Linked DNA regions of Homo sapiens. The protein of the gene in region 4 interacts with the protein of the main gene of each other region in a biochemical or structural test. Each region holds a gene or a part of one and is shown on either strand. Other genes may lie near its edges.

Region 1 (6,048 bases), about 58 Mb from region 4:
CTGTACTTGGAAAAAATGAGGTGAACCGGCCCTCATCAGGGCAAGCAGAGAAAAGAAACTCTGACTACGTAACAGATATAAAAACTGGCCACTTGAAGAATTGCTGAGCTTGCATAATGTCGTACATGAAATGAGAATGTACAAGGAGCAAGAAGTCCTTTCATCTCTAAACTACAATCTACTATAATGTGATCAAGAGCCAGAGTGGGGTTGGGCAGAGTGGCTCACACCTTAATCCCAGCACTTTAGGAGGCTGAGGCAGGAGGATCACTTGAGGTCAGGAGTTTGGGACCAGCCTGGCCAACATGGTGAAAACCCTGTCTCTACTAAAAATACAGAAATTAGCCAGGCATGGTGGTGGGTGGCTGTAATCCCAGCTGCTTCAGAGGCTGAGGCAGGAGAATCGCTTGAACCCGCGGCGGGGCAGGGGGCAGGGTGGTGTGCACCACGTGTGGTGTGTGGCGAGTGGGGTGGAGGTTGTAGTGATACATATGGCGCCACCGGACTCCAGCCCGGGCGACAGAGTGAGACTCAAAGAGCCAGAGGTGGAGGTGAGGGTGGAAATTTCACCAACAGACAACTTTGATCAATTCCCTTGACAGGTTTGAAGGGTTGGGTTCAACAATTCTTTGGCTTCCTCAAAAACTGACATACATAAAGCTTAACATCTTTTATAAAATATAAGGCATGCATGCAAGAGCTGCTCATCTTAAAAGGGACAGTACGAATGCTATCATTTATTAATATGTGTTTATTCCACAGCTTAGTTTTTTGGGGCAGGTGGTCTATTAATATTAATAAAAGAAAACCCCATACTCGAATATGCAGGCTGTAATTTTTTTTTTTTGAGATGGAGTCTCCCTCTGTTGCCCAGGCTGGAGTGCAGTGGCACAATCTCAGCTTACAACCTCTGCCTCCTGGGTTCAAGCAATTCTCCTGCCTCAGCCTCCCGAGTAGCTGGGACTACAGATGCACGCCACCACGCCCAGCTAATTTTTGCATTTTTAGTAGAGACAGGGTTTCACTATGTTGGCCAGGCTGGTCTTGAACTCCTTACCTTGTGATCCACCTGCCTCGGCCTCCCAAAGTGCTAGGATTACAGGTGTGAGCCACCGCGCCCGGCCTACGGGTTAACTTTTAAGCAAAAATTTCACATATACAAAGGAATTCAGAAGATACCCTCCATGGCATAATATTCTCACATTTAAAATAAGAAAGATCCACTGGGGGCACGGGAAGTACACAAATAAAGCATACGTTTAAATTCAGGATGGGCAATGTTATCAGGACAAAAAGTCTTATAAGAGGAAACATTGTTTCCTAGCTGTATTAGTTACTGGCTAAAGCCAATGTTCTATTTGGTTACATAAAGGATCATTTGGGAGGATGAAACCTAGTAGCAGTTATTTAAATCAATTGGTGTATCGTGTTCACTACAGAAAAGCTTTCTAAGTATTAAAAAAAAAAAAAGCATCACACTGTTGAAGCACAAGGTTTAAAATTAAGTGTGTTGTACAGTAAGGTTTGGCTAATTGGGGAGCCAAAATACTTAATTTGGCTTAGGACAAAATAAACTGGCCAATTAATCAACAGTAAAAGGAGACAGTGACTGACTTGAACAAAAAAACAGTTGTTTAGTTGGTTTTTTTTTCTTTTTTGGGTGGAGGTATACACATTGGAAAAGGTATTCCGGAACACCTGGATCAAAATGACCTTTGCTAGGTCAACTCCAGAAATTGATCAATCATATCTGACCTGGTACACATAAATTCCAGATCTCCTTCTTAGATGAAAGCTAAAACCAGAGTTATCCTATAGCCAGAATGTGGGTAAGACACTAAAAGATGGTCAGTATACATTTAGAAACTCCACACTGTAAGAAAATTACACAGGCACATGGAAGAATAAGCAAGATCTTGGTCTTGTTTAAAAAAGAAAAGAGAAAAAAAAAAACCAAGCCACATCCTAGAGTTGAGAACAAATTATTAACAGCAAATGGCCATTTGTATAATTAACATGTACTGTCTCACGTTTCCCAGTTAAATTTATGAAAGACACTATTAAATTTCAGACAAAATATATATATTTCTTTTAAATCTTTACAATAAATCAAGATGTAGAAGCTTACATAGGGCACATTTTTGTTTATTTAGGTACTCAATTCCAGCTCCCTTGGATGCAAATAACCCTGGTGACAGTGTGTACAAAGTCTTCTCTTTGCTTTTTATAATTTTAAAAGCAAATAACACATTTAACTGTATTTAAGTCTGTGCAAATAATCCTTCAGAAGAAATATCCAAGATTCTGTTTGCAGAGGTCATTTTGTCTCTCAAAGATGATTAAATGAGTTTGTCTTCAGATAAAGTGCTCCTGTCCAGCAGAACTCAAAAGGCCTTCAAGCTGTTCAGTAAGTGTAGTTCAGATAAGACTCCGTCATACGAATTCCAGCTTCCCGTGCCCACTGTACATGCCCCAGTGAACAAGCGAGAGGATCTTATCGTTGCTGAGGTCTGCTTGTCTCATTTTATCACAGGTCAGACAGCAGTTCTCGTGCCCACTGACCGGCACCATGCATTCCAAGTCTAACTTTGCAACCTGCCCCTTTTTGGAATGGTGTCCGTGAAAGCTGTAGTGCAAACGGGAGAGCATCTGTTGCCGCTGATCCTGCAGCCTCTTATTTTCACTTCGAAGCATCCTCAGGGCCAACATAATAAGCAACACTAAAATCAGCCCTCCAGCAATGGGCACGGCAATGACCGCTGCCCGGAACCACAACTCTTTGGAAGAAGTCAGCTCCTGCACCTTGGTGATAAGGTTTCTGCTACCATCATGCTGATACCTGTTTCCTTGTCCTAAAGGAGTACAAAGAAAATGATCAAACTCCATGCTAACTCCTCCTAGGGATATTCATAATCATCAATTCATTTTAACCAAGAATTCCATTAAAAAGAAGCTTACAATTAAATCAACGATATTTAGAAAACATTGCAAAACTATCTGAAGAAGCTTACAAACGCATTTGTTTACAGACTGTCATTACTGAGATGTAATGGCCTTTTAATGTCTTCAAAATGTTGAAAAAACAGGCAAAACCTATTATGTAGACAGACATCTAATGCTCAGACATAAAAGCCACTCAATCAAGATGCATCTTTGCATCCAGCCAGGCTTCTCCCTCTGGTGTCTCTAATTACATTAACAACAAAATCAATAGCAGACATACAAAGTCGTGGCTGTCACAAGTCTATAGATCAGGCAGGCATTCTGGTTAGAAACGGCTTCCACCTACCTGAGGCCTCACCCCTGGGAGGAGAGAGAACATCGTGCAGCCCTCTGTAATTGCACATGTCTTCATGACAGCATTCCAATGTGGGTATGGTGGTGCCAGAGTGGTTTCGGGCCTGTTTGGCTTGGCAGATGTCTGTCGTGCTTGCAAGAGAGTCCAGGCAGCCATGGGTGAGTGGGGAATTTGAGTTCTGAGGATCAAGAAGTCTAGAGAAGCAGGCGCTGAGCTCAGATTTACACATATAACCAGTGGCTACACAGTGGGCAGCATCACAGTAGCATCGAATTTCACCTGAAAACAATGAGAAACCACCTCAAACTCTGCTCCAGAGACCAGATAAAGCAACTATTTAGGCAACTGCTAAATCCCAAATTCAAAGGCATGAACTTTTAGATCATCCAAGCTGAGGGCTCCAGTCTACAGAGCCTGGAGAAGCCCTTCCTGCAGCCAGTGCGTAAGTTTCAATCCAGTTAAACGTCATTTTGGCAATGTAGTAATCCCAATAGCAGGTTTCTGAGGAGTTTAGAGTCATTTTAAAAAAACTTTTGCTTTTTGAAGGAAATAGTAATGAGTATAATTTCTCCTACCATAAGGTATAACACATTATTTATTCATTTTAATCCTACATGACCATACAACATAAAAATGTTAGGCTTTTTGATTTTGTCAGTATAAATATTTGATCGGAACTACTGAATTGTTTACTATCCCACAGGACTGCACCAAGAGTTAAGAGCTTTAGCTAACACCTTATAAAGTTATTAACTAGAAACACAACAATCTAGAAACTGCCCAGGTCAGGAGGTTTTAAAACTATGAAACTAGGCAGCTATTTGCAACCTCTCTAGAAAAGGCAAACTTTTTGCCTATAAAGATCTTTTCATGCAGAGGAGCTTTTAGTCAGTATATTGTAAAACAGGAACTAGGCAGTTTACAATTAGTGGTTTGCTTGCCAAAGTCAATTTCTTTCAGCCCAAATGGAAAGTCATAAAAGGTGGGGGGAGTATAAAACTGCAAGGCTAACTTCTCCTCCTCCTCCTCACAAGTTTTACATGTAATTCGACATGTGATCTAAAAGGGGAAACACTGAAACTGAAAATCCTCTGCTGGTTGAATGAAAAATCCTTAAGGAAACCTCAAATTTTCTACAGGAAGTGATTAAAAGTTTCCTTTATAAAAACTTATTTTGTGAGTTGCATGGCTCCGTTCACATTTTGTCGCAGGGCAAGATTGGAGGCTTTAATATCAGTTTCTCGTTGAAATAATCTGGGTCTTCAAGTTCTCACTAATACAATATCCACCTAGTGGACCCTGGTCGCTGTCACATGCCACAGCGAGTAAACTAAACTAATGCACACGCCTCTTCCAGTTTCCCGTCTGAAGATCCGAAACCTCCACTCTGAAATTAAACACCGGGATCTGCTGTTTTACAAACCTCTTCCCACCCTTACCTTTATTCTTCCCCCTCTCTCTGAACGCCCCAGTAAGGTGTCTCATTTAATTATCTGTCCAAATTCCAGACCACGGTATTGTATGCTCAGTTTTCACCGGACGCTGCTAATGCTTCGGTTCTAAGGAAAACCAGCCCGCTAAACACAGATCTTTGGCAACCCTTAACAGTCCAAAGCTAGGGGTCTTGCTCCTAAATCTGCACTGGTTGGGCCCAAGTTCCTTCTCTGCTTCAAGTAAGAACCTTGCTTTGCAGAACCACTTCTCTGCTCTTTCTCCTCCTCCCTCCAAGCTCACTTTATTTTCCACATAAAGCTCACCAGTCTTCTGGGGTGATGACTACATATCCCTAGTTTGACAAATTCCATATATAGATTTAAAGTATAAATAAAACAGATTAAAAGCCCATTTTGACCCTATTAGCTTCAGACCTTGTACAGAAAAGGAAGACTGAATACAAGTAAAATGCTGCTTAAATGTTTATGAGAGCCTATTTTCAATGACCTAAAAACAGCCTAATAAAATTTTGACAGGTAACTGGGAAAGTTCTAACTACCTTTTTTTTTTAATTGGAGCCACATTTTAAGCAAGGAGAATGGACTTTTGTACCACTGTATTAAAACTATATTTCTGTCGTTCATAAAGTTTCTTCCTGTGGCATGCAAAAGGCCAGAAAGGGGACTGGTATTTTGAAACTGTGGAACAATGCCCTTCTGTTTCTGTCCCCTTCTCGTTACTGTATGTAGTGATTAAACAAAAATGTCTGCTTTAGTCAAGATGGCTACAGGAGAGACTGCTGGCTTCTTTTAAAGCTTTTGAAGTCCGCAGCCGTCAGAAATCTCTGATCCCCTAATTATATCATTATCAGGCACATAGTTTCGGTATCTGTGACTTCATGTCAGCCTCAGTCCCTCCCTGTTCTGCCCGCCTTTGATAGGGCCAGGAGGCTCCCCTCTGCAAGCCACAAGGGCTGTTATTTAGGGTTAATTACACCCTTCCTTCCAAAATAAATAAATACTGTAGCACATCATCCTCGCTGGGCTAGCTTATGCTTTAACCTCATGCCTGCTACATAGCAATTAAAGAGAAGTAGGGGGCTGCAAAGACTAAACTGCTTCCTACTTAAAAAAATTATCTGTTCACAGAACAGTAGGTAGATTTCACAGCAGGGAGGTGAGGAGAACCTTGAAATTCGGAGACAGTTCGGGTTATTTCTTTCTAAAAGGTGAAAGCCTGCAGAGGAAAGAAGAAACTGACCCGCTGCCTTTTTTTTTTTTTTGGTCCTGTTTGTAAAATATGAGGTGAGTGGCAGT
Region 2 (7,142 bases), on a different chromosome or scaffold from region 4:
AAAAGCATTAACTTTTTATTTGGATATACGATATTTTCAAACTCATAGGAAAGTTGCAAAGATAAAGATAGTGCTAAAAATACCCTATAACTTTTATTGAGATTCGCTTATTGTTAACATTTTATTCCATTTTCTTTATCATTCATGTACTCCCTCTTTGCATACATGTGAACAAAATAATAAAACCTATATATTTTTTTCTAAGTCATTTAAGAGTAAGTTTTATACATTGTGGCCCCTTTTCCAAAATACTTCAGTGTGTATTTCCTGAGTCAAAGAGTATTCTCTCACATAACCACAACACAGTAATCAAATTTTAGTAGATTTAACATTGATGCAATACTTTAATCTTTGGACAGTATTCTGATTTTATCAACCGGCCCAATATTGTTATTTACAGCATTATTTTCCTTAGGAACAAGATCTGATCAAAGGTCAGGTACTGCATTTAGCTATCCCATTTGAGAATAACTTTAATTAGCCAGACTTTATTTTTGCTATACTTGAGGAATCATATCCCATGTAGTATATAAACATTTTAATTTAAATTAGGCTTCTGACAGATCTTTTATTATTAATTTATATTTTGTAATTCCATTCTATTAATTACACTATATGCATGTGAATTAGACTTTTTTGGGCCATAGTTGAAATTCTAACAATAGTCTAAAGATATTAATCTACTTTTAATTTTAAAAGAGATTTCTATTTTTTTGGTACTAATAAGTGTAATGCTAGGTGACTGGAAAAGTGGAAAACTCCAAGGAGGAAAACGAGATACCGTCCAGTGTTTAAGAGGAATGATTGATGCTGACAAATTTGGAATAAAAATTTTAAATAAATAATCTGGATGTTTTCTAAGGCAAGCTGTTGATTTTATCACTTCCCATTGCCAAGACACACATCGGTGCCTGTTAAATTTGACGTTTTTACTCTGATCGTCAGTGGCAGCTTTAAAGCATCTGTAGCATCCCAGGATCAAGCAACAAATCAACTCCACGAAGGGCTGTGAAACCATATCTGCCCGTTTCCTTTCCCGAGAGCCTCTCTCTAGTGGCAAGCCAGTAGCTAATCTACACCGGAGAAGTTACGACCCTTGTCTTTTGCAGTTAATGGCAGCCTGTTTGTTTTCTGCACCTCTCTTTTCCTTTTGGGGAACACAGGGCTGAAAGGTAACAAGATCCAACAGGGCTCTAATCATTATATAAACTGTCTACTGAAGAGGTCCCTCTACCTCCACCAAATTTCTCATTAGGTGGCCACAGTTGAGAGCCAACAGTCTCTGGCAACAATTTTGAATAACTATTCATATTAAAGAGGCTTTTTACAAAAGGGATAAACTTTTAAGAAGAACTTGGGTCATGGTGTTTGAAAGAAATGATATGTTTATTATTGTTTAGCGATGCTGGTAATATTGACTATACTTTGCTCTTTCCCTCCCACAGTCCTGATACTTCTTTACATCTTGAATTTCTGATATTTTAAATATAATTAGGCTTTGAATATGTAAGTACATAATTGGAATTGGAATTGAATCAGAAACTTGTGTTGATGCTCCAGTTATATATTCCTATGCATTATATTACAGGGACTAGTGAATGATGGCCCAAATGCCAATCTGAGGCTTGCATCTTGTACTTCTTTGATATTTTTAATATATTTAGGCTTTGAGTATGTAGCACACAATGAATTGGAAACTTATGTTTATGATCTAGTTATGTATTCCTATGTATTACAGGGACCATTGACTGATGTCCTAAACACCATTCTGAAGCTCTAATAGTGTCTAGTGTAAACTGTGAAATATTGATACACTTCCTCTTACAATGAGTGACATTATTTGATCCCTAACCATGGACATCATTGTGGAAATTCACCTCCACCCCATCCTCACCTCATCAAGTCCCTAGCATTCCAACACTATAATGTCTACTTCTGCAGCTGATATTCTGATTTCTAGAATGTGTTTGTCAAATATTATATCTGTTGTCAGCTTTCCTTGTGATGTGTGTTGTTTTTTAAAAGACTGAAACTGCACTGGATTTATGGGAAAGTAAGATGAAGCGTGTCCCTGGCTATGGTGATGAGCTTGCAACAAGGACAGCTAAAACGATGGTGTTTTTAAAGAGGAAATATTAGCCTTGGCATATTGCAGGAAAGAACCCACATCTACAGTCTGTTCCTTCTGTGGTTAGTGACAGGTATATGCCACTCCTACAGTGGGGTTGCTGGACCTCAGATCCCTTTATCTTTCAAACTCCAGTGAAGTGATCTGTACTGCCCTGGCCATGTAATTTCAGAGATAGCTACATTCCTCAGCAAAGGTATCATACACATTTTTACTCAAAAGTCCAAATAACTTCTTTGCATCATCAGGAATTGAAACCATTGGCTTTTTAAAATTTTTTTATTTTTTCACTCATCATTTATTTACAAATACACATTATAACTTTTATATACATTGCACATTTACATGGTAGAAAAGTACAAAACTATATATTTAAATGAATTTATATTTTAACTTGCCATGTTTGAAAATATAAAATTGCATCAGAAAAAAGTATTATGAAAAGCAAGAAACTTGAACTGATAAAGCTTTGATATAACTTTTAGTGATATACTGGTTGAAAAAGAACTAATTTAAAAGGTACAGCTGAGTAGCTTAAAGGAAACACCTAACAAAAGGTTGAATGTGTAGCCTTCAACATCCTTTAGTCTCCTGACACCCACATCATTTCTTTGTATCTGTAACATCTTAAAAGTACATTACTAGAATTCTAATCATCTCCTCTCTCACAAATGTCTTCATCATAACAAAAGAACTGAAGTAGGAGTTTCCTCAAAGATGCTTATCTTCTGTACCTTGTATTTGAGTCAGAGTTATAATGCCTTTTGGTCAGTCAAGGTTCCTTGTAAACAAAACCCGAGGGATCATGTATGTACAGATCAGGCAGCAGAGAATCCAATAAATAAACATGACAGAAACTGACATGCAAGTTTGTTGAAAGTGGAAAAGAGTCTAACAGTGAAATGAAGGGAGACAGATGAGTGAGTGAATAGTAAGGAATGGACTTAAATGGTTTACAAGGAAAAAAAGCTTTTACTTTACAAGCAAGAGACCTCACAATAAATAACAACTGCTCTTCCTTTCACGAATAAATTTCTTCAAAAACAAGGTATACAGTCAACCAGACATTTTATGTATAAATTATAAAACATGACACAGTATAAATAAATGTCTACAAGTCTCAACTATGGGCCTCATCCAGTAGACCTCACAATGAATGCCTCTCCGTGTCCAATGAGTAACAAGGTGGCCTGGGAGAGAGCTTTAGGACAAAGGTCCTTTAATGTATAGTTTTCCCCCCAAATAAATAAGCATACACTTATTTACAGTATGGACAATATATTTTTCTTTTTTTCTTTTTCTTTTTTTTTTTTTTTTTTTTTGCACAAAGGCTATGTCAACACTGAACACTTATAGAGAGTTTACCACTCTAGAATAGAAGATATAGGAAAGCTGTAGTCCTGGTCTTCATCTTCCTCCTCTTCCTCGGTGTCTTCCGAAATGGCTAGATGGGGGAATACAGGGGAGCTGTTGTTTAAATACGGACAACAACAGCGCAGAAGCAGCTCAGTGTATGTTTTCAAAGCCCTCTGATACAGCCATATTACAGCGTTGCATTTTTATGTGACTTGCAGTGAGATGCTTTTTTTGTTTTTGGCATCTGCTGTTATGCAATAAGTTAAAAAAATTTTTTTAAAGCATAATCTATGAAGTCAAAAACTGCAGAAAGTTCTGAAGAATCAATGGCTCAGGTTTTACGGGCAGATTCCTGAAATTAGATAAAAAGCGCTCTTGTGTTCTAGGTATAACTGCTTTGGGTCCTTAATTCAGAGTTAGTAGAGGCAACTGCAAAAAGCAGCAGCCCATGTGTGATAATATGAAGCTGTCGTTGGAAAAAAAAAAAAAAAACTTTTGAAGCAGTTAGTTTAGACTCAAATGTTAATAAAGCAAACAGCAAAGCACACTACCAAAACACAAGAAATAGGGGAAAACAACTGGAAATAGATTTCTAGAGGCAACCCCATTGATGATCACCAGATAAGTCCTAAAAGCCAAGAAACATCGCAGAGAATTTTCTGTGGATTATTGAATTGCTGGTGATACTTAGCAGCTACCTAATTTGAACAGAAATGGATTTATGGGAGATCTGCGTGCTTTGTAAGTGTCCATTCCCTAGGGATTGCCTGGGAAAGCCTTAAATGGCAGCAAGGTTAAAAATCGCACTTACAGTTGCAAGATCCGGAGTGCTTTACTTCCAGTAGCACACCTGAGGAGCAGGCAGCTTCCTTCATGGCACACTCGCTGGCATAAGTGGCATTGTCACTGGCACAGACAGGCTCATCCGACTTACTGTCAGGGCACAGCTCATCACAGAGGGAACACCGGCCTCTCCCAACCTTGAAATCCCATAAACATTTTTTCCCACCAGTGCACTGGATATCTTCACAGGACTTTGCTTCTAGGATATAATACATCTGTGATGAGTAAACTGATTTCCCCATATCCCCCTTTTCTCCCTTTCTCTAGTCCTCTATCAATAAATATAAACATAATTTATTTTATATAAACATAATAGTAATAGCCTATTACTAATGGGGGTAATGGAGATATTATGCAAAAATGCTGGATAATAAAACTGAAACTCAAATGCACACACACATACACACGCACAAAACCCCTGCAGTTTCTTACATACTACATTAGTGCATTAAAAGGGTATTTTTTTAAGAACAGGATTTTACAATATTCTCAAGTTAAATATGTATCTTATTATTTCCCACAAGTGGGATCTTTTACAAAAGAAAGAATTCCATTAATTACTAGAATCTGACAACAGATTTCTGGAACTGCTAAGTAATTATTTTTCGCTTCCAGCAAGTCTGGCACTTAAAAAAATGTGTAAAATTGAGTAAGTTCTAAGTTTTCTAAGACGGAATACTGTTCCTTGCTTCCTGCTGGCATTTGAATATATGTGTCAATGCCTCCAGAAGACAATGGTTTCCATGAGGAATACTGTGGTCACAACACTTTCCCCAAATTGCAGCGTATTTCTCCCTATGGTGTTTGGGGACGCCTTGGGCTTTACTTATTAGTTAACCCCACAGTTTAATAATAGAACTAGCCTGTTTTCTCTTTTTCCTTCCTCAATCCAGAATACCTACTGATACACTTTCCCTCATAGGCTAATCCAATAGATCTGCCCAGCAGGCAGGTAGCCTTTCTCAGGTGGCAGGCACTGGAGTAGGTGACTCCATCATTCCCACAGAGATATTGCTCAGAGGAAGCAGGCTCTGGGCAAATCCGATTACAGGTCACACAGTAGGCATTATTGGTCTGGTCCACCACACATGTGGAGCTGCCTGGACAGAAAACATCCCGACAAGTCTCTGGAACAAAGAAGGAAACACACATGAATAGGTACCTTCTAGTCCTTAGGGAGTGAGCACTTGAAGTTACCAAGGAAATCATGACACTGAAGCATCCAGCTTTCAAAAGGCACTTAGGGAGCCCTGTAGTTTTCAAGAGAGAATCTATGACTAGGTTGGTCCCCTCAGTGTTCTTAATGAATCTCTAGAGGTTAGAAAAGGACTCCTTTATTTGGTTTCAGTATTACTATTATCAGGCTCTTACTGCGGACTACACCATCCCCCAAGGGTCTTCTAGAGGGTCTACTTTAGGTACAAAGCTGGAGGAGGGGACAGATCCAGTCTTGCTCAACAGGGTAGGACCTACTTTTACATCTGCCTTGGTACTGGACTTCCAGTTCTGGCTGCTCTTTACATCTTGCCTTTAGGAGTGCACATTCATTGCGGTAGGTTTTCCCATCCAGCCCGCAGACTGGACCCTTCCAGGTGATGTTGGAACAATCCGGGGCGCAGACGCAGCGGGGTTTGTTCTTCTTGTTCATTCGGCATTTTTTCCCAGGTCCACAGTCCACGTTCTCACACGTTTCTGTGAGTTAGAAACAGGCATGGATTAAAACCAGAGCCAGGCAGTCTGCAGGTCAGCCAGGAGGGCTTCGGGTGCCTTGCGCAATCATGCAGCCCTGAGTTTGCGCTGGAGGGGCCCCAGGCTCTCTCCTGGAATATTGGGAGTTGGTGAAAGAGTGTGGACCTTGGGCTGTGCCCCACACCCAGATCTCTCTCATTAAGGAGCACAGGTTGGTGGGTTTCACCACCACACTTGGCTAAGAAGTCTGGCGTGTATTCCCTACAGCCTGTAACAGGCAGAATTAGAGTCTGCACGGCTTACCAGGGCAAGGGACAGGAAGGGGAAGCCCAGGAACAAAGCTCTCCTACTCCCAAACCCCAGTCAGGTAGTGGGGAAGCTAAGGGTAAGACGCCCTCTACTGAGGGCCTGCAAGTTGGGAAGAAGGAGTCCTACCTTTACAGGGGATGCAGTTGGGGGCGCCCCCGTTGAAAATCATCCACTTGAAGAGTGTGTTGTCATTCACGTCCTCCTCGGTCCACGAGGTGCTCAGCCGGCCGGTGCTGCAGCACTCCTCCTTGCTCAGTTCGGTCTTGTACAGGACCTGGCAGCGGCCGTTCTTCGCTTGACGGAGCCAGCAGTTCCCAGCTGTGAAGAGACAAGGGTGGGGAGGTGGGTGAGTGAGCAGTGAGCGGTGGCAGGGCAGGGAGAGCGAGGTGGCTAGCGAAGGAGACCCGGCGGGGATGGGGAGGGGGTGAGCGTGGAGGAGGGGAAGTGAGAGAGACGCGGGAGAAAAGTAGGAAATAAATCGAAAGGGGTGGAGGGGTGGAAAAAGAAGGCAGTGGAGGGGGAAGCCCTGATCACAGAGATGGGAGGTGGGCGAGAGGGAGGGAGGGAGAGAGGGAGAAGACAGGGCGCCCCAGCCATATCAATGTCAGTTACCAGTGACCCAGACACAACACGTGCAGCTTGCATTGACTTTTACTAGACTGTTTACTTTTATTCGTCCCATTTCATAACCTGCAGAGACTCGAAGAGCAGATTAAAGAACCTGACAAAAACAGGATGCGACGGATGTTTTTACATGCTGGTTTCATGTAGGCGGGTACAGGAATTATTTGTGACAGGGGTTAAGAAAGTAAGAGAA
Region 3 (10,136 bases), on a different chromosome or scaffold from region 4:
GAAAACCCGAACCAAGTCAAGACAGCAAACTCACGCCCACGGGCGCTGTGTCAACATGGAAATAATGATACTGAAGCCCCACGCTGGGCACCTGGGGCGTGGACTGGGGGCGCGGGGGAAGCGCAGATCCGCCTTCATGCTTCCCCCTCCTGATAAGGTCCCTGGAGTTCCCGGGAGGCCATTGTCTGTACTTAATAATAACTAAATCCAACTAGTGAACCAAGCTTCAGCGAGCAAGGGGTGGGAGGTTTAGATGCCAAAATACCTTCAAAAAAGTTTAAATTATACTAAGCAGCCAGTTAAGAAGGAAGCAGCAACATATGACCTGATTTAGAACCATCTCCAAGATGTATGAGGTGGAAAGAAGCAAGGTGCAGATGAGTGGGCTGCATGTGTGCTTGTATATCATCGTGTCCTCCTGGAGGAAGACACCAGGAACTGGAGAGAGATTTTACTGGAGGGGTAGAGAGGCGGGGGCATAGCTGGGGCTTACGGAGTGGGAGGTGGGGTCTGATTTTTCGTCGTCTGCACTTCTGTATTTGTGATTTTTTTAAAACAATGTGTATTTATTAACTATACCAAAAACTAAAGGAAAATTCCAAATACATACATATAAATAATGAACGCAGAGCTCTGTCGCCCTCCTGAAGCCTGGGGTTAGCCAGGGCCCTTTCTCTGGTGGGGGATTTATAGCATCTTCCCTTCTGTTGGGTACCCCGGACTCCCACTGAATGTGCAGGTCCCAGTGGCTGCCTTCAGAGCCTGGCTGGAATCATTAAAAAGGTATTTGTAATCTCTGGCTTCTGCAGAAGGCCCTGCAAACCAAGAGCAAAAAAGCCCCCAGTGCTTATGGGCCGGCAGTGTGGGCTAGGCCCCGGGGCTCCCTGTCCCCAAGAGAAAGACCAGGTTGCTCGGAGGGTGCCTCTGGGAACTTTGGTGCGGGCTATTTGCTCCCCCCATGGCGGCAGGAGCAAGCTGGGACTTGTTTGGGAAGGCCACAGCTGGGTGGTTTTCCTCCTCTGGCTGTACATACACCTTTCAATCCATTTCTTTCATCTTGAAAGGACAAAGACCGGCTTGTCTGAGCCTCTTAATCAGTCAGGCTGGCTTTGGGCTTTGTGGGACCCTGACTTTCTCAGGTCTAGCTTTCTGGGACATCACTCCAAATTAGATGGCAGAGTGGCTTTTAACAGAGCGCACTGACCTTGTTTTCTTTCTCTCTCTGTCCCTAAACTCGAGGTCATTAGTTAGGTGAAGACCTGGGCTGCAGTTTGGCGAGACACTTCCTGTAGATGCTTCTAATGTTGGCCTTTAATTTCTGCTAAGCAGCAGCACACAAATAAATGGCCTGTCCCTTCTATCCTGTTGTAGCTTGGAATTTCTCCATAGGAGGGACTTGGGGGTGGCAGTAGGGTTGGAGAGGGTTGGGGGGAGGTGTAGGAGACTTGTCTGGCCACTGAGTTTGCTGAGAAAGTACTGCTATAGTGTTTTTCCTTGGATTGCAAATCATGTTGATCTGTAGTATTCGAAGTTTTCTAAAGGCAAGTTTATTCTCACAATTTACATAAGAGTGAGAAAATATCACTTGCACATATCAAACTATTACTTCTTATTATGGTGGGAGTTTGGCGGGGGGGGCATGGGTGAGGATCTTGGCAGCCTCTGCTGCCCCTTCGCCCTGCACTGCAGAGCTCTGCTGTCTTGCAGGCAGGCGGCCTGCGTGCGCGGGAGGGGGGACCCTTGCCTGAATTCTGAAGGCTTTTGCAGACCTGGTGCATTTATTCTTCCTTCTGTCTGCCGCCAAACTGGTTTTTGTTCCTATAAGTCGTTCTTGGAATTCAAGTTTTTTGCCAGGCTGAGCGGGATCTAAACTAGAGGGGAAACTAGAGGGGAATTTACGACAAAACCAGGTGGTGGGAATGAGGACTAAAGGCCGCACCTTATGACAAAGCCCAGCCTGTACCATAAAGCCCCAGGCAATGTGAACTGAGCTGCCTGAGTGAGACTCCCATCTTCCCAGCCTGGGCCCCTTAAGTTCAATGGCAAGATTTGTAAACTGGTTTGGATTAACAACCCCGACTCCTCTTTGTAGACTTAATTTTGGAATTCAAAACAGCTACCCTCTCTTAAATAATCCCCAGGCAATGGCGACTCCGCACACTGCATCTAGCCATAGCCCGTTACCATTCTTTCTCTGGGAAGATCCAGCAGCTCTGTTAGGAATCTTGTAAAGTAGCCGGCTGGCACTAGGGGAGTGGAAGTCATCATGTTTATCTCTGGTCCAGGTAATGAAGGCATGAAATTTGTGTAATCTTTGAAGGAAAAGAAGAGAAAGTTGGAAACCTATCATTATTGGAGTCAGCCTATAAAAGTGGCTTTTGTTAATGTAGCTGAAGAGTAGGGAGAAGGCCGTGCAGTTTGATTTTTGCTTTATGCCATCTGGCTGTCCTTTTTGTTGACAAGTGTTTGGCATTAAGACCTCTCCCACTGCCCGTCAAGAGCAGGCCCTACCACTGTAGAGTATTAGAAAAAGATTCTGTTACAGTTTAAAAATTTCCTTCAGGGAGTGCTTCGCAAAGGGGAGCGTGGACTGCAGGCATTTGCAGCTGTAACCTGGCTTGTGTTAAAATTTGGAAGGGGCTGCTCCACATTCCAGCACTCGGAGCGCCGGCCCTCACTGGTGAGCAGCCAAAGGTTAATATAGATGTCACACAGCTCCCCCCTTCTTTCTTTCTGCAGAGCGCCTTTGCTATAGGAGTGCACCAACAGCTGTGTTTTTCGTAACCCTTTCAAAATCACTTCTTTTAAACCTCATTTTCCTGCTTATATAAATCAAAGATTTTCCTCCACTTTTCCCAAGCATGTATGTGACCCAGCTTTGAACTTTTTTCATTTTCTATGTATTTTCCTTCTGGAATCAAGGCAGGGTAAGGCTGAGCCCTGGATGCCAACTTGGGTGGCTGTTTTTGGTTTTGGTTCCAGGGTTGTCATTCGGTTGTGGAGCGGTCCCCATGGAAGGGGTAACAGAGATGGCCCACTTGCAAATCAGTTTCAGGGCAGCAAGGGGGATGATTGTCTGAATGCACAGACAGACGAAACCGCTTTTGAGATGCAGCCCTCTCAAGCTACGGTTTGGGGCTTTACCATGGCGTAGTAGGCTCTCAAGCCTTTGCCGAGATAAACACAGCTGGTGCGCGATCCCCTCACCACCGGAATGCCTGCGATGTGAGTGAATATCACGTGTCCGCTGAACTCAGAGACAACTGGTGACTTCATTCCAGGGAGAGTCCCATCTAAGTTGATTGATCACTCCTATCACTTTAATATCTCTCCCTCATTTGGTAAGGTCATATTTGGCCCATTGCAAGAATCAGCGTGCCCTAAGTCTCCCCCGTCTCCACCCTTCCCCATCTGCCCATCCGTGTAACAGCCTGAATATTTTGAATGGGGAGCCCTTTGCACCATGCTTCTGGCCACATTAATTCTTTCACGCTCACTCTTCAGTCTTAGCGGGGGGGCTGTTGGCACACTGGTTTCTTGGCAAGCCACTGCAAGGCTTCGCCTTAATGCACTCTGGCACTGTCACCGGGGTTAGGGCACAGGCAGGGATGTGTGGGACCTGTCATGTTATTGTCAGAAGGAATGTGCGGATTAGCCTTTACAGCGTAGTGGTGGGAGAGCACTGCAGCTGTGTACACTTATTATAAAAGATTTAAGTCCCACTGGTAAAATCAATATATTGAATTGCACAACCCTCTGCTTTTAATTAGTTTAAATCAAATGCGCCGGTGCCATTTTGCCTTCTCTCGCCTTCATGGGGTGAGGAACTACCAATATTTACATAGAAACTGTTAATTTGTGGTGAAAATGATAACACATTTAGCTTTACACACTCAAATTGCTCCAACTTGATGGATCCCAGATCAACGTGGAGTTGAGCTGAGGAGATGACGTCACCAGGAGCGGGGAGGAGACACCCGTGATGTCTGTTGCTTGGACCCTGGATTCCAGATGCAGGTGGACATGTGTGTAGAGGCAGTGACTGGGGATGCTGGTCCTTCAAGAAGCGAGCTGGTTCTTTCTATTGCAGGTCAAAAACAATGAGATTTACCTACATCATCTAAAATCCTTTCTCGGAAGCATTCTTACAAAATTGCGAAGTGGGCACTTGCTCTTGGGTCATTTTGAGCCTGTTCTCACAGCATGCAAGGGTCATGTACTGGGCAGCTCAAGGCACGGTGCTTTATTTATTCCAGAGCTTCACATGCTTTTCTTTCCAATCCCTGAAACAGTTTATAGAGGAAGGGCGTTTGTTCACTGCAAATGATCCCATGTACGACCGCGGCTATTAGTGAGCCGTTTGGTATTAGCTGTGTGTTCAAGCTGGGATTGAATTCCGGGTTTTGCAGCAAATGGCATCTGACAAATAATAATTGACAAAAAATGTGACTTGGTATTTCTTAATATGGAACAGATAGTTCATTTAAGCTTCCCCGGCAAAAAAAAAATTGCTCAAACTCAAACTGAAATAGCAATGCCAGGGAATACTAGGACTGCTGCTGTGTATTTTTTTCCGCTCCAAAGTAGAGTGTTTATGATTTGGGGGGATATTAGAGTGCATGAAGTTTGACACTTACTTATGCGAAACTCAGGCAAGCATGTGCAATACCGCCTTTTCAACATTTGTGTCGGAAGGCATTGTGGGGAGCCGCGCAAAGCCTGTGCTGATCCGCGTGGAGTGGATTGAATTAATGACAACTCCGAGAGCACCAGCTTTAGGGTAATTGCTTTATTGTTTTGGAGCCAGGGTGCATATAATCCGGTTCCTGTGCAAACATGTTGAACGTGTGTTAATGCATTTCCAAACCAGAGCCTCTCACACAACCCTGCTTTTCATTAATTGATGTCGGTAGCATGGTACAGTATTTCAAAGGGCTGGCCAAGTATAAACTGTGTTTCCAATTTCCTTCCTTTCCTGTGTTTGGAATGCCAATGTTAATTTGTTCCCATGCAGGAGCGGGGGCTGCCAACCGCGGCTTTCTATAAAGGGCTTCACAGTGAAGGCTTCCAGCCCTCGCTGATGCTTGGGGCTGCCTGGCCAAGTCTCCTGACACTTTGCAGCTAATTCTGGGTGATATATGGGGTGGGGGATTGGGGGCTTCACTGCCGTGTAACGGAAGTTCTCGGTGACAGCAGTGGGTGTGACTTGGCAAGGGAGATTGGAACGGCATCCACAGTGATTCTCTTTAGACACAGCCTAAACCTATGTGTCTGTTTCCACTATGACAGCACATTAGCTGTGTGACCTTGGGCAAGTTACTTAACATCTCTGCATTTGTGTCCTCATTTTATAAAGGCTACAAGAGAATCTCTTCCTCAACAGATTCTAAAGAAATAGAAATCATATCACCCATGCGCAGAGGCTGTCACCTAGTAGGTGTAAAACAAATGGTAGCTCTTGTTTTTATTGTGTTGGCCAGATGAAGATTTACGTTGGTATATTAGTCCAAATTTCAGTTTTTAAGTACTTAATCTTAAAATACTGAGATTAAACTGCCCATGTTATTTTAAATGTCAAGAAAATGGTCCCCAGAGTGTGAATATGTGTGCGCCTCCCTCTTTCAGAGATCAATGGAATTTGAATGAATGCACCAAACTTATTTGAGGATGAATAGAGTCTAAGGCTGAATCTTTTCCCCAATTTTAGCATCTATGGTTATTTAATGATTTTACTACTTGGGAAACTGGAACTCAGTGAGAGGGTATACCGGAACTCTCTGTAGTGCCTTTGCAACTTTGAATTAAAAATTAATTTCAAAATAAAATGTTTCATTTAAAAAATTGCATTATTGAAGTATTTCTTCCCAATCCTTTCTGGAAGATGGTCAAAGTACAAATTGTCTTTTCCTTCAAGGGAGTGACAAGCCCAAAGCATTCATTAACAGAACTGCACAACTTCCCCACTTTTTATTGGAGCAGGTGCAAGGCTGCCCAAGGCTCCCGCAGCTGGGGTTAGGCTGCAACAACAAAGCCCTGTGTGGATTCAGCATGTTTAGAAGCCTCTAGAGACCAGAGGACGAAAGAGAATGGCTTCAGGGCCAGATACCGAGGGGTGGCGTTTCTCATTCAAGACTTTCCATAAATTCCCTTCAGCTCTTTATACTGTTTGAAAAATCCGACTCACCAAGTATTAGGTTTCCCTGCATCTCTGAGGTCACGTGTTCTATCACATCTTTATCTCCCTGGAGTAGCTTTCAAGTTTCAATCTTTTGTTGCCTGGCTTAATTAAAATTGGCCACGAATAAAAACTTGCACCGTTTCCAAAATCGAGGACTTGTGTGTTTCTAAGCATTGGGTTTAGGCCTGCCCTGTCTTGTGCTTCCAGCCTGTCTTCTGCTTTCATGTAGCTTGGACTACATGAAGAAAAAGAAAAAGCTAAGCTCTTAGCATGACAGTTGGCATATAATGGTCCAAGTGCTCATCCCCCTGGCAACTTACACACACAAAGGCAGGCAAGTTTTTTTTTTTTTTTTTTTTTGGTGGCTTGTGTTTTGGCCTTCAATAAAGGACACTTTTCCTGTTTTTTTTCAGACAGCCTTATTCTCCTGCCCATGCACAGCCTTGCAGAATTCTCATGGCATAGAAGGTGCTCAGATATTGGTTGTTTCGGTGCACATATGGCATGAAGACATTCTAAGCAGTCTCTTCTAAATGCTTTTGATCTCCAATTCCCACTACTACCTTTTCAGGTACATACCTTAAATAGTAATAAGTTGTATAACTACTGCAGGATAGCTAGGATAGCTTGTGCTTCATAAAACATAGACAAAAATAGAAATTTAAGTAGGAGACACTAAAGCTAAAAGCAATACAAAATTTTGGTGTTTGTTAATTAATACAAATTTTAACTAATGAATCATTTTAATTTTAATTGTTAACACAATTTTAATTAACAATATACATTTAATTAAAATTAAATTTTAATATAATTTAATTAAGTTTGCAGTCATGAAAATTTGCGGTGCAATGGACTGTTCTTTGGTGTTTTCAAAATCATGATTTAACAGTTTAGAATCACTGATCTAAAGGCCTGGTCCCAAATTTCGATGACCCTTCATCTGGTCAGTATAAATGAAGTTATTGTGTGTGAAGAAACTCACAATCTTGGTGCGTTAAAAATCCCAGAAGTTTGTTTTTCATTTGTATCACATTATAGCTCTATCGTGGGTTCAGGGTGGAGGCGTGGAGTTCTGCACATTGGTGGCAGCAGAGTCCCTGGGAGAGGCTGAGGTCCTCAGAATGTTACGAATAAGGTGCCAGAAGGAAAGATAATGTGAACTGTGCGTTGGCTTTTAATATTTCTACCTGGGAGTGACTTTCTAACTTCAAAAATTTCTATTTTTGTCTGTTTTATGAAGTACAAATGATCCTAACTAGTAGTTATACAACTTATTTCTTTTTTTCTTTTTTTTTTGAGATGGAGTTTCGCTTTTGTTGCCCAGGCTGGAGTGCAGTGGCGCGATCTTGGCTCACTGCAACCTCCGCCTTCTGGGTTCAAGTGATTCTCCTGCCTCAGCCTCCGAAGTTGCTAGGATTATAGGTGCCCACCACCACGCCCAGCTAATTTTTGTTATTTTTTTTTATTTTTTATTTTTAGTAGAAATGGGGTTTCGCCATGTTGGCCAGGCTGGCCTCAAACTCCTGACCTCAGGTTTTATCCACCCGCCTTGGCCTCCCAAAGTGCTGGGATAACAGGCGTAAGCCACCTTGCCCAGCCACAACTTATTTCTATTTAGGGTATGTACCCCAAAATTTACTCTTCCACCTGAAAGAGCTTCTGCTCACATTTCATGGGCCAAAGTGAGCCATGTGGCCAAACCTGACCCAAGGTTGGCAAGGAGATGACGATACCACTGCTTGCTCAGAAAGGCAAAGCACCAGAGAGCGTCCAGGAAATGGCACAGATGACACCACGCTATCATGATTGAAGTGTCTCTCACAAGATTCAAAGACAGAAATGTGGGAAGTAAGTTGTGGGGTGTGTTACTGAAACCAGAGCTTCATTTTTCAACCCCACCTGTCAATTATGCAGATATTTTTGTTGAAGCTAGTGAACTCCCATGATTGTCAGTTGGAATTTGCATAACAATTATAATTGTAATATATCTTTTCCTGACTCCCAGTGGGTTCCTCTTGCCTCCTCCCATCTTGCGCTTCATTTTGGAGACTGATGTTCTGGAGGCTTCCATCTCACTGAAGTACTCAATTGGTTCAACAACAATAACATCTCTTTCCATTCCCACTTGTAAAGTGACTTCCCTGTTTATGACTTGTCTTTCAGCAAAGGCAAGCTTCAGCTTTTGTCCGGTTCACTATCTAGAGAATTAAGAAGCATTACTCTGCTCCTGGCTAATGAGGTGACTGCTGGTGTTTCCCCGGAAGATACAGGTTATCACTTCGCCATGAAATCTTGTCCACAATGGAAGAGCTGCTTGCTTTCTCTCCTGGGCCTTGGAGACATTCCTTTTTCTTTCTTTCTTTTTTTTTTTTTTTTTTTTTTTTTGAGATGGAGTCTCTCGCTATCCCCCAGGCTGGAGTGTAGTGGCATGATCTCCACTCACTGCAACCTCCACCTCTGGGCTTCAAGCAATTCTCCTGCCTCAGCCTCCTGAGTAGCAGGGATTACAGGCTCCCACAACCACGCCCGGCTAATTTTTGTATTTTTAGTAGAGACGGTGTTTCACCATGTTGGCCAGGCTGGTCTTAAACTTCTGACCTCAAGTGATCCACCTGCCTCAGCCTCCCAAGGTGTTAAGATTACAGGCGTGAGCCACTGCAACTGGCCCCTTAGAGACATTTCTTAGTCCAGGCAGGATCTTGCATAGGCTGAATCTAGACATTAAATTCAGAGACCCCTTCATCATCTAAATGCATCACTGAAATGGATTGTAGACCTCAGAGGGCTAAGACCTTTCTGTGTAGCAGCAATGGATTCAGAGTAGCCATCTTTATGGGGCCCTCATGCAGTTCTCTCAGTATTCTGCAGGGTAAGCAGTGTCATTTCCATTTTAGAGAGGAGGATGCTGAAGGGGCCCAAACATGCACAGCTAGGAAGTGTGGGGCAGATGTGTCTGTCCAGCTCTTGCTGGGTGCAGAGCTGCCCATTCTTTCCTCCTGAACCTGTGGGGTATCGAATAGGTAGCGGGGAGCGTGGAGGAGATGATGTTGAGACCATTAAAACAGAAGCCGAGCCCATGGCCTTGACTCTGTGGTCCCGTGTTCTGATAAGTGACATAGAGATAAGCAGGCACACACCTTTCCCTTCTGTTATCCACCCTGCTTGTGATACCTCCCCTCTCCTCGGTCTTTATGGTTTAAAAATAATTGTCAGGGCATAGGGCCCTGAGTGCCTGTGGGGGGCACCTACATGTACCCCATAACCCTTCCATGGGGAAATTCCATAGCCAGCCAGAGATTGGTATTTTAATAGCAATTCCTCAAGATGCTGTATAAAAAAGACCACAGAAACAGTTTTTTTCCGTATGTCCCAGCATGCCTTTGTGTACGGTCTGTAGTATTGTAAACTCCCCAAAATCAAAATGTGCATGAACAGGGGATTCGAGAGAGAAGCAGGTGTAGCTCTGGGAGGGGATATGGAATAGTCGCCCCAGCGCAGGGACTTCTTTTTGTTTTTGTTTTTTGTTTTTTTTTTTTTACTGTATCAATGTAGACTGGAAACAATGTCAGAAGGAGAAAGCAAGTAGCAGAAGGATGTTTAGGATGTAACCATTTGTTAATTACACACATAGGCACCCCCGCCCCCAACCTCCCACACAAGGGGACCAACTCATAAATGTATTGTTTGTGGGTTCATACACATTGCAGTAATACCATGGACACATGGGCAGGAAGGACTCCCTACCTTCAGGGTGAGAGCTGCCCGTGGGGAGGAGGGAAAGGATAGTTTTGATGAGAGTTTCAAATAAATCTCACCTATTTCTGTCAAGTTTTCTGTCTTTTAATAAGAAGAAACCAAAAGAGGCTGGGCGCGGTGGCTCACGCCTGTAATCCCAGCACTTTGGGAGGCTGAGGTGGGTGGGTCATCTGAGGTCAGGAGTTCGAGACCAGCCTGGCCA
Region 4 (8,361 bases):
ATTTGGATGGATTCTTGGTATCAGGGAAAAAAAAATAATCCCAGCAGGTTCATTTATATATGGAAATACTCAGTTTTGGGTTGAAGGAACTCTTATTTGAGAGGACCTGTATTATGAACACTAGATATCCAGATAGGTTTAAGTTTTTAATTGTATTAGTTGAAAGAAACTGATCTCTTCTTATTTTATTTTATTTTACTTTATTTTATTTTAATCGTATCGAGATAGTCTTGCTCTGTCACCCAGGCTGGAGTGCAGTGGCCCAGTCTTCGGCTCACTGCAACCCCTGCTTCCCAAGTTCAAGCAATTCCCGTCTCAGCCTCCGAAGTAGCTGGAATTACCAGATGCACCACCACACCAGGCTAATTTTTTTTTTTTTTTTTTTTTGAGGGATGAGGTTTCTCCATGTTGGCCAGGCTGGTCTCAAACTCCTGGCCTCAACTGATCCTTCCACCTTGGCTCCTAAAGTGCTGGGATTACAGGTGTGAACCACCGCACCCACCCTGATCTCTAATTTTGAAATTCATCTTATTAAATAACTCTAATTGAATTGGAAAGGTAAAAGTAAAACTGCCTTCATAGGCAGACAACATGATTGTTTACGTAGAAAATCCCAAGAATGGTACAATAAAACTACTGCAGCCAGTAAATGACTTTATCAGGTTGCAGAATACAGAGTCATTGTACAAATACCATTGAATTTATAGGCTCTAGCAACAAACAATTAGGTAATTATAAAAACAGTATTTAAAATAGCATCAAAAACCATGAAATATTTAGAATAAGCCTAACAATTTATGCAAGACCTGCACACTGAAAATTATAAAACATTGCTGAAAGAAATTAATAAAGCCCTAAATAAGTGGAGATGTTTATAAATCTGAGGACTCAGTATTAAGATTTCAGTTTTCCTCAAATTGGTGTGTAATTTCATTCGAATCCAAATGAAAATCAGAGCAAACTTTTATAGCAATTGATGTATATTCTAACATTTATATGGAAATGCAAAGGACTAGAAGAGCCAAAACAATTTTGAAGTAGAAGAACAAAGAGGAATCACTACCTGATTTCTGGACTTACCGTAAAACTCAATAATGATCTCAATTTGGTACTGGCATAAGGATAGATGTATTGATGAATGGAACAGATTATGGAGTTTAGAAAGGAACATGCACTTAATATGGTTAATTGATTAAAAAAAAAAAAACAAAAAGATGCCCAAGTAATTCAATTGGAAAAAGGCAGTCCATTTAACAGATGGTGCAGGAAATATCAGGAATCCATTTACCAAGAAGTTAATCTCAGTCCTTACCTCCTCACTCTATACCAAATTAACTTGAAATGTAGCATAGACCTAAATGTAAAAGTTGAAGTATAAAACCTCTAAAAGAAAATGTCTGAAAAAATTATTCTGACCTTGGGCAGACTTCTTCAGTACATAAAAAACACAAATCATTTTTTTAATGATAAATCAGGCTTTATCAAAATTTAAAACTTCTGCTATTTAGAAGACAAGAAAATGAGAAGACAAGTCACAGATTGGCAAAACAGATCTGATACAGGGTTTTTGTGCAAAATATATAAAGACCTTTTGCAACTCAATAATAAGATAACCCAATTTTTTTAAAAAATGGACAAAAGATTTGAACAGACACTTCCCCAAAGAAGATATAAGAATGGCAAACAAGCACATGAAAAGATGCTCAGCATCAGCAGGGATATACAAATTAAACACAGTAAGATACTACTGCACATCCACTAGTATAGCTAAGACTGATAATATTAAGTGGTGCCAAAGATGTAGATCAACTAGAAATCTCATACATTGCTGGTTGGAATGCAAAATGGTATGGCTATTTTGAAAAATAGTTTGACAATTGCCTGGAAAGTTAAGGGCATACTTTCCGTACAATGAAGCAATCCTTCTGCTAATTATTTACCCAAGAGATATGAAAACTTGTCCACACCAGAGGCCTGAATGTGAATGTTTATAGCAGTTTTATTTATAATAGACATAAACTGGAAACAACCCCAAAGCTCATGAATTGCTAAATGAATAAACAAATGCTGGTACATTCATACAGTGGAATATTACTCATCAGTAAAAAGGAACAACTTCTAACACATGTAGCAGCAACAGTGGGTGAATTTCAAAAGTACTTTATGCTACATGAAAGAAGCCAGACACAAAAGGCTACACAAAAGTGATTCTCCTGCCTCAGCCTCCCAAGTAGCTGGGATTAAGGCATGCACCACCATGCCCAGCTAATTTTTGTATTTTTTTTTAAGTAGAGACAGGGTTTCACCATGTTGGCCAGGCTGGTCTTGAACTCCTGACCTCAGGTGATCCACCCGCCTCGGCCTCCCAAAGTGTTGGGATTACAGGCGTGAGCCACCACGCCTGGCCAAAAAGTGAGAATTTTTTTACGTTATTAAAATATTCTGTATCTTAATTGTGGTATTGGTGATTACATGATATAGATTTGTCCAAGGCTTGTTGAACTTTTCTCAAAAAGGGTACATTTTATATAAATTATACCTCAATAATCTTGACTTAAAAACTTACAGGCTGAGGCAGGCAGATCACTTGAGGTCAGGTGTTCGAGACCAGTCTGGCCAACATGGTGAAACCCTGTCTCTACTAAAAATACAAAAATTAGCTGGACGTGGTGGCAGATGCCTGTAATCCCAGCTGCTCGGGAGGCTGAGGCAGGAAATTGTTTTAACTGGGGAGGCAGAAGTTGCAGTGAGCTGAGATTGGCCGCCGCACTCCAGCCTGAGCAACGGAGCGAGACTCTGTCTCAAAAAAACAGAACAAAATTTACAAAAGGATTCTATAATAAATGATACATAAAGTCACTTTAGCTTTGCACTAAATCTAGTCCATTTTAGAAGCATTTCCAACTTGGAGCATAATGTTCTTTTTAATTTAGAATGATCACTAATGCTTCTGAAAATGAAAGATAACAATCCATGTACATCTTTTATTTAACAAATATTAAAGTACTTCTGATATTGTCCCAAATAAATACTTATATTCTGTGAGCAGGGGATGGAATTCAAGCAAATATATATGTAAATAAGAATAAAGTTATGATTGTGTTAAGCGCAGCAACTGAGAGGTTTTGTGTGCTATGAAGGTGTTTAAGTGAGAAAATAGCACTCTAAGTAAAGGGAACTGGATATTCAAAAAAACCCAGCGACAGGAATAAGCTTGAGTGAATTCTAAAAGTTGAGATAAGTCAAACGAGGTTTGTGGGTGGGTGGTCAAAGCAAATAATGGGACCAGGCCAGATCAGGCAGGGTCTTATAGATGGGATTTTTAAGATCTTTAACTGTTATTTGGACTTTGCTGCATAATAAACCACCCCAAAACTTAGTGATGTGAAGCAACAAACATTATTTCTCATTCTGTGAGTCTGTGGGGCAGTTCATTTGTTGGACTTGCTTAGCTAGAGCTAGGTGGTGTAGTTCACACCCTTGGCCGACAGTTCATGCTGCCATTATTTTTTGGTCACAGGGTTCCCAAAGCAGCAGGAAGGGGGCAAGCCCCAGTCCACAAACATTTGTCAGGTCTTTGCTTGCATCACGTTCGCTGTTGTTCTTTTATCCAAAGCAAGTCATGTGGCCTAAGCCCTGAGTCTGTGGACCAAGACTACCCACGACTGTGTGCACTGGGAGGGTAATTATTATGACCATTTTTGCAAACAGCCAGCCACTTGAATAACCTGTTTATGATTTCAGAATACATTGTACATTGTTTCATACTTTAAAGTACATTATGGCCGGGCATGGTGGCTCACGCCTGTAATCCCAGCATTATGGGAGGCCGGGGGTGGGGTGGATCACCTGAGGTCAGGAGTTCAAGACCAGCCTGGTCAACGTGGCTAAACCCCATCTCTACTAAAAATACAAAAAAATTAGCTGGGCATGGTGGCGGGTGTCTGTAATCCCAGCTACTTGGGAGGCTGAGGCAGGAGAATCACTTGAATCTAAAAGGTGAAGGTTGCAGTGAGCCGAGATCGCGCCACTGCACTCCATCCTGGGTGACAGAGCGAGACTCCATCTCAAAAAAAAAAAAGTACATTATAAGTTTTTAACTGGAGTTGGTTGGGTACACCATGCTTTTTGATGAGATGGACTACCCCTTTGCCAGTCTTAATGGGTTTCTTTCATCAAGAGCTCAAACCTTTTACTTTTTTCTATAAAGGTTCAGCGAACTATTGCCAAACAGATTCAGATGGTCCGGCAAGTTGGTAAAGGCCGATATGGAGAAGTATGGATGGGCAAATGGCGTGGCGAAAAAGTGGCGGTGAAAGTATTCTTTACCACTGAAGAAGCCAGCTGGTTTCGAGAAACAGAAATCTACCAAACTGTGCTAATGCGCCATGAAAACATACTTGGTGGGTACACACTGATTCAGTCAATTTCATTTTTGACAAGGCTAGTGAGGTACAGGTGGAAGCCTCCATATGTGCTTTGAAAATGTGTGAGTTCAACTATATACATTTGGCTAAAGGAAACCTAGTAGAATACACGGTTTGAATAAAACATAGTCCGGAATGCCAACCAAGATCTTTCTTTACTAACCAGCTGAAGAAACAGCAGTGAGTTTCAAATGGAAAATAATACTAGTTTATTGGACTTACTCCCATAGTAATGAAAACCCAGTCTTTTATAGATAACTTAAGCAGTGATTTAGGGTAACATTAACATATGTGCCTTTTCCCTTTCATAAGCTCAACAGCCCAACATGCAGTTTCATTGTACGTTCTGTGTTTAATGTGTGTTTCCCCCCATCTCCACATTTACACAATAGCAAAGTAATTTAGGTGTGAGCTGGTCAGTCAGGTACATAAGCCGATCTGGCTATCCTGAGTTTTCTTTTCCCTTCACCTCTTGTTTTCCTCCCTTTAATTTGGAGAGCCCATAGCATGTTGCCAAGCAGGCAATTGTATTAGTTTCCTAGGGCTGCTGTATCAATTACCACAAACTGGGTGGCTTCAACCTCCAAAACGTATTCACTCAGTTTTCGAGGCTAGAAGTTTAAAACCAAGGTGTTGGCAGAGCTGTTGTGTCTCTGAATACTCTAGAGGAGGAGCCTTCCTTGCCTCCTCTGGCTACTGGTTGGTGGCCAGGAATTTTTGGTGTTCCTTGGCTTAGTATAGACAACACTCTAGTCTCCATTTCTGTCATCAGGTGGCCTTCTCCCTGGGTGCCTGGGTCCACATTTCCACCTTACAACATCACCAGCCATTGAATTCGGGCCCACGCTAATCCTGTATGAGTCATCTTAACTTGATTACATCTGCAAAGACCCTCTTTCCAAATAAGGTCACGTTTATAGATGACATGGATTTTAGACATGAATTTTGTCGGGGAGCACTGTTCAGCTCAGTACATAGCACTCACTGACCTTTTTCTGGAGGGAAGAGGGTAGGAGAGAAAGGAAAAGAGCAGGACTGTGGGCCTGGCAGTCAACGAGCCAGACTGAAAAGGCAGCTGTGATGAGTCACTGATGGGCAAATGGGAGTTGGCTTAATTAGGAGCTAACTCTTAGTTGAACATTCTTAATTTTATAAAAGTGTCCACTTTTTGCTTTGAAATTGAGAGCCTTTTCTACTAGAGAATCATGTAGGTTGATAATATTCTCCAGGTTATTTGTATAATATGTCATCTTTTTCTTTTCTTTCCTTTTCTTTTCTTTTTTTTTTTTTTGAGACGGAGTCTCATTCTGTCGCTCAGGCTGGAGTGCAGTGGCGCCATCTTGGCTCACTGCAACCTCTGCCGCCAGGTTCAAGTGATTCTCTTGCCTCAGCCTCCAGAGTAGCCGGGACCACAGGCACTTGCCACCATGCCCAACTAATTTTTGTATTTTTAGTAGAGACGGGGTTTCGCCCTGTTGGCCAGGCTGGTCTCGAGCTCCTGACCTCAAGTGATCCTCCTGCCTTGGCCTCCCAAAGTGATACAGGTGTGAGCCACCACACCCAGCATATATGATCTTTTTCTTAATCCTATTCACTTTCATGATTATTAAGATTATTATAAATTTATTGTAGAAGTACAGATATATGTGTAAATGTAGAAATATAATTTTTAGTAACACATTCACGACTTGGTGTCAGGCGAATTAAAGTTTCACTATCTGCACATGATACCTAAGTTTTTCTCAGTATCCAGAATGAGCATTACTTCTCCCTAGCCTATCTCTGATGATAACTAACCTTTTAAACTCATCAACTGGACAGGTTTCATAGCGGCAGACATTAAAGGTACAGGTTCCTGGACTCAGCTCTATTTGATTACTGATTACCATGAAAATGGATCTCTCTATGACTTCCTGAAATGTGCTACACTGGACACCAGAGCCCTGCTTAAATTGGCTTATTCAGCTGCCTGTGGTCTGTGCCACCTGCACACAGAAATTTATGGCACCCAAGGAAAGCCCGCAATTGCTCATCGAGACCTAAAGAGCAAAAACATCCTCATCAAGAAAAATGGGAGTTGCTGCATTGCTGACCTGGGCCTTGCTGTTAAATTCAACAGGTGAGTGGTTCTTTGCCCCACTGTTTTGAAATTATTTTAATTTCCAAAAGATATTTCCCTATTTGTATTCAAGATAATGGAATTCTAAAAATGTGCATATGCTTGTTTTTAGTTACATAAATGTATAGTTGGGGGGGATTTTGTTCTTTTTACAAAAATTGTGTCCTACTTCTCCTATACATAATTCTTGATATATATATATTTTTTTGGTGTTTTTTTTTGTTTGTTTTTTGTTTTTTGTTTTTTGTTTTTTTTAAAGACAGTGTCTCACTCAGTTGCCCAGGCTGGAATATAGTAGTGTGATCTTAGCTCACTGCAACCTCGACCTCATGGGCTCAAGCAATCCTCCCACCTCAGCCTCCTGAGTAGCTGGGACTACAGGCATGCACTGCCACACCTAGCTAATGTTTTTATTTTTTGCGGAGATGGGGTCTCACTGTGTTGCCTAGGCTGGTCTCAAACTCCTAGGCTCAGCTGATCCTCCCAAAGTGCTGGGATTACAGGTGTGTGCCATATAGTCTTAGCCATCCTTCCATTTCAGCTGATGTAAATCTACTTCATTCTTTTTAACAGATGCAGAGTTTTCCATATGTGGAGGTACTGTAGTTTATTCTTAAGACCCAACTGATGAACATTAAAGGTGTCTTCAGTTGATTATGAAAAGGTTTTTTAATGAACATTGTTGTATTTTAACCATATATTATATATTTGATCCTTGTGCACTTGTACAAGCATTTCTTCATGATGGATTCCTAGAGAAGGGCCTGCTGAGGCAGTGAGTTTATACATATTAAACTATGGTATGTTGCATATTATTTCTTTCAGCAGTGTGCCTCAGTTTACACACCCGTAAGCAGTAGAGATAAGGATGTCATTTTTCTGTCACCACTTGATAGTGTCAGTATTTTAAAACAAATGCAAGTGTTAGAAATTACAAATTTTTAGGAAACCTTTGAAACCATTTTAATCTTGTAATTCTAGAATGGAGTGGCTGCTTTACATTTCAGAATTCATTTTAGGCTGTAATATAAAAGTACCAGTCTTTAAAACAACTGTAAGAGACATTTAAATCTGTTACAGTGTTCTGAGTCAGTGTAGTATTTGTTGGCTCAGATATTTATCAGATGCTATAGGAAAATACAACGCATTATATTGATCACTGCTTTAGAGTAATTATTACTAATTGTCAGTATGATCATGTAAACATTGCTAACAACAGAACTCTGTTGATGGGACCCATAAAGAAGAAAATGTAATCCTATGTCACAAAGCCTTAGTGTATCATATGAGAGTGGTAAAAGCAAGCGATTCCTCTTGTATTTTCATATTCACCACTTCTCAGACATAATTATCTACTACTTTATCTTTTTTTTTTCCTTTTCTTTTCTTTTTTTTTTTTTTTTTGAGAGAGATTCTCACTCTGTTGCCCAGGCTGGAGTGCAGTGGCATGGTCTCGGCTCACTGCAGTCTCCGCCTCCCAGGTTCAAGTAATTTTCGTGCTTCAGCCTCCCAAGTAGCTGGAATTATAGTCATGTGCCACCAACCCTGGTTAACTTTTGTATTTTATAGAGACAGTGTTTTACCATGTTGGCCAGGCTGATCTTGAACACCTGACCTCAGGTGATGCGCCCGCCTTGGCCTCCCAAAGTGCTGAGATTACAGGCATGAGCAACCGTGCCTGGCTTAACTTTATCTTATATTCAGTGTTGTCCTCTTTCTTAGACACCAGACTTATTTAGTGACAAAACCTGACCTGAACGGATGTGAGGTGTGTATTGCCCTTATCCAGTTGAGGAGGACTATCGGACTTAGTGT

What was found.
Region 1: the proteins of BMPR1A (region 4) and BAMBI form a complex in vitro, tested with the Homo sapiens proteins (one study listed by BioGRID).
Region 2: the proteins of BMPR1A (region 4) and FST are reported together in a solved structure, tested with the Homo sapiens proteins (one study listed by BioGRID).
Region 3: the proteins of BMPR1A (region 4) and BMP7 form a complex in vitro, tested with the Homo sapiens proteins (2 studies listed by BioGRID).

The regions. Positions count from the first base shown.
Region 1 is NC_000010.11:28,678,787-28,684,834, reverse strand, and holds the end of BAMBI (BMP and activin membrane-bound inhibitor homolog precursor), read right to left. Parts: intron 3,578-6,048; coding exon 3,290-3,577; intron 2,853-3,289; coding exon 2,434-2,852; 3' UTR 1,903-2,433; downstream 1-1,902. UniProt on the Homo sapiens protein: Negatively regulates TGF-beta signaling.
Region 2 is NC_000005.10:53,482,381-53,489,522, reverse strand, and holds the end of FST (follistatin isoform FST344 precursor), read right to left. Parts: exon of another isoform or gene 7,008-7,142; coding exon of another isoform or gene 6,938-7,007; intron 6,644-6,937; coding exon 6,452-6,643; intron 6,020-6,451; coding exon 5,801-6,019; intron 5,455-5,800; coding exon 5,230-5,454; coding exon of another isoform or gene 5,191-5,229; intron 4,527-5,190; coding exon 4,296-4,526; intron 3,837-4,295; coding exon of another isoform or gene 3,835-3,836; exon of another isoform or gene 3,596-3,834; coding exon of another isoform or gene 3,573-3,595; coding exon 3,490-3,572; 3' UTR 2,389-3,489; downstream 1-2,388. UniProt on the Homo sapiens protein: Multifunctional regulatory protein whose primary function is to antagonize members of the transforming growth factor beta (TGF-beta) superfamily including activin, myostatin, GDF11 or bone morphogenetic proteins (BMPs).
Region 3 is NC_000020.11:57,254,227-57,264,362, reverse strand, and holds part of BMP7 (bone morphogenetic protein 7 preproprotein), read left to right. Parts: intron 1-10,136. UniProt on the Homo sapiens protein: Growth factor of the TGF-beta superfamily that plays important role in various biological processes, including embryogenesis, hematopoiesis, neurogenesis and skeletal morphogenesis.
Region 4 is NC_000010.11:86,912,924-86,921,284, forward strand, and holds part of BMPR1A (bone morphogenetic protein receptor type-1A isoform 3 precursor), read left to right. Parts: intron 1-4,210; coding exon 4,211-4,403; intron 4,404-6,248; coding exon 6,249-6,546; intron 6,547-8,361. UniProt on the Homo sapiens protein: On ligand binding, forms a receptor complex consisting of two type II and two type I transmembrane serine/threonine kinases.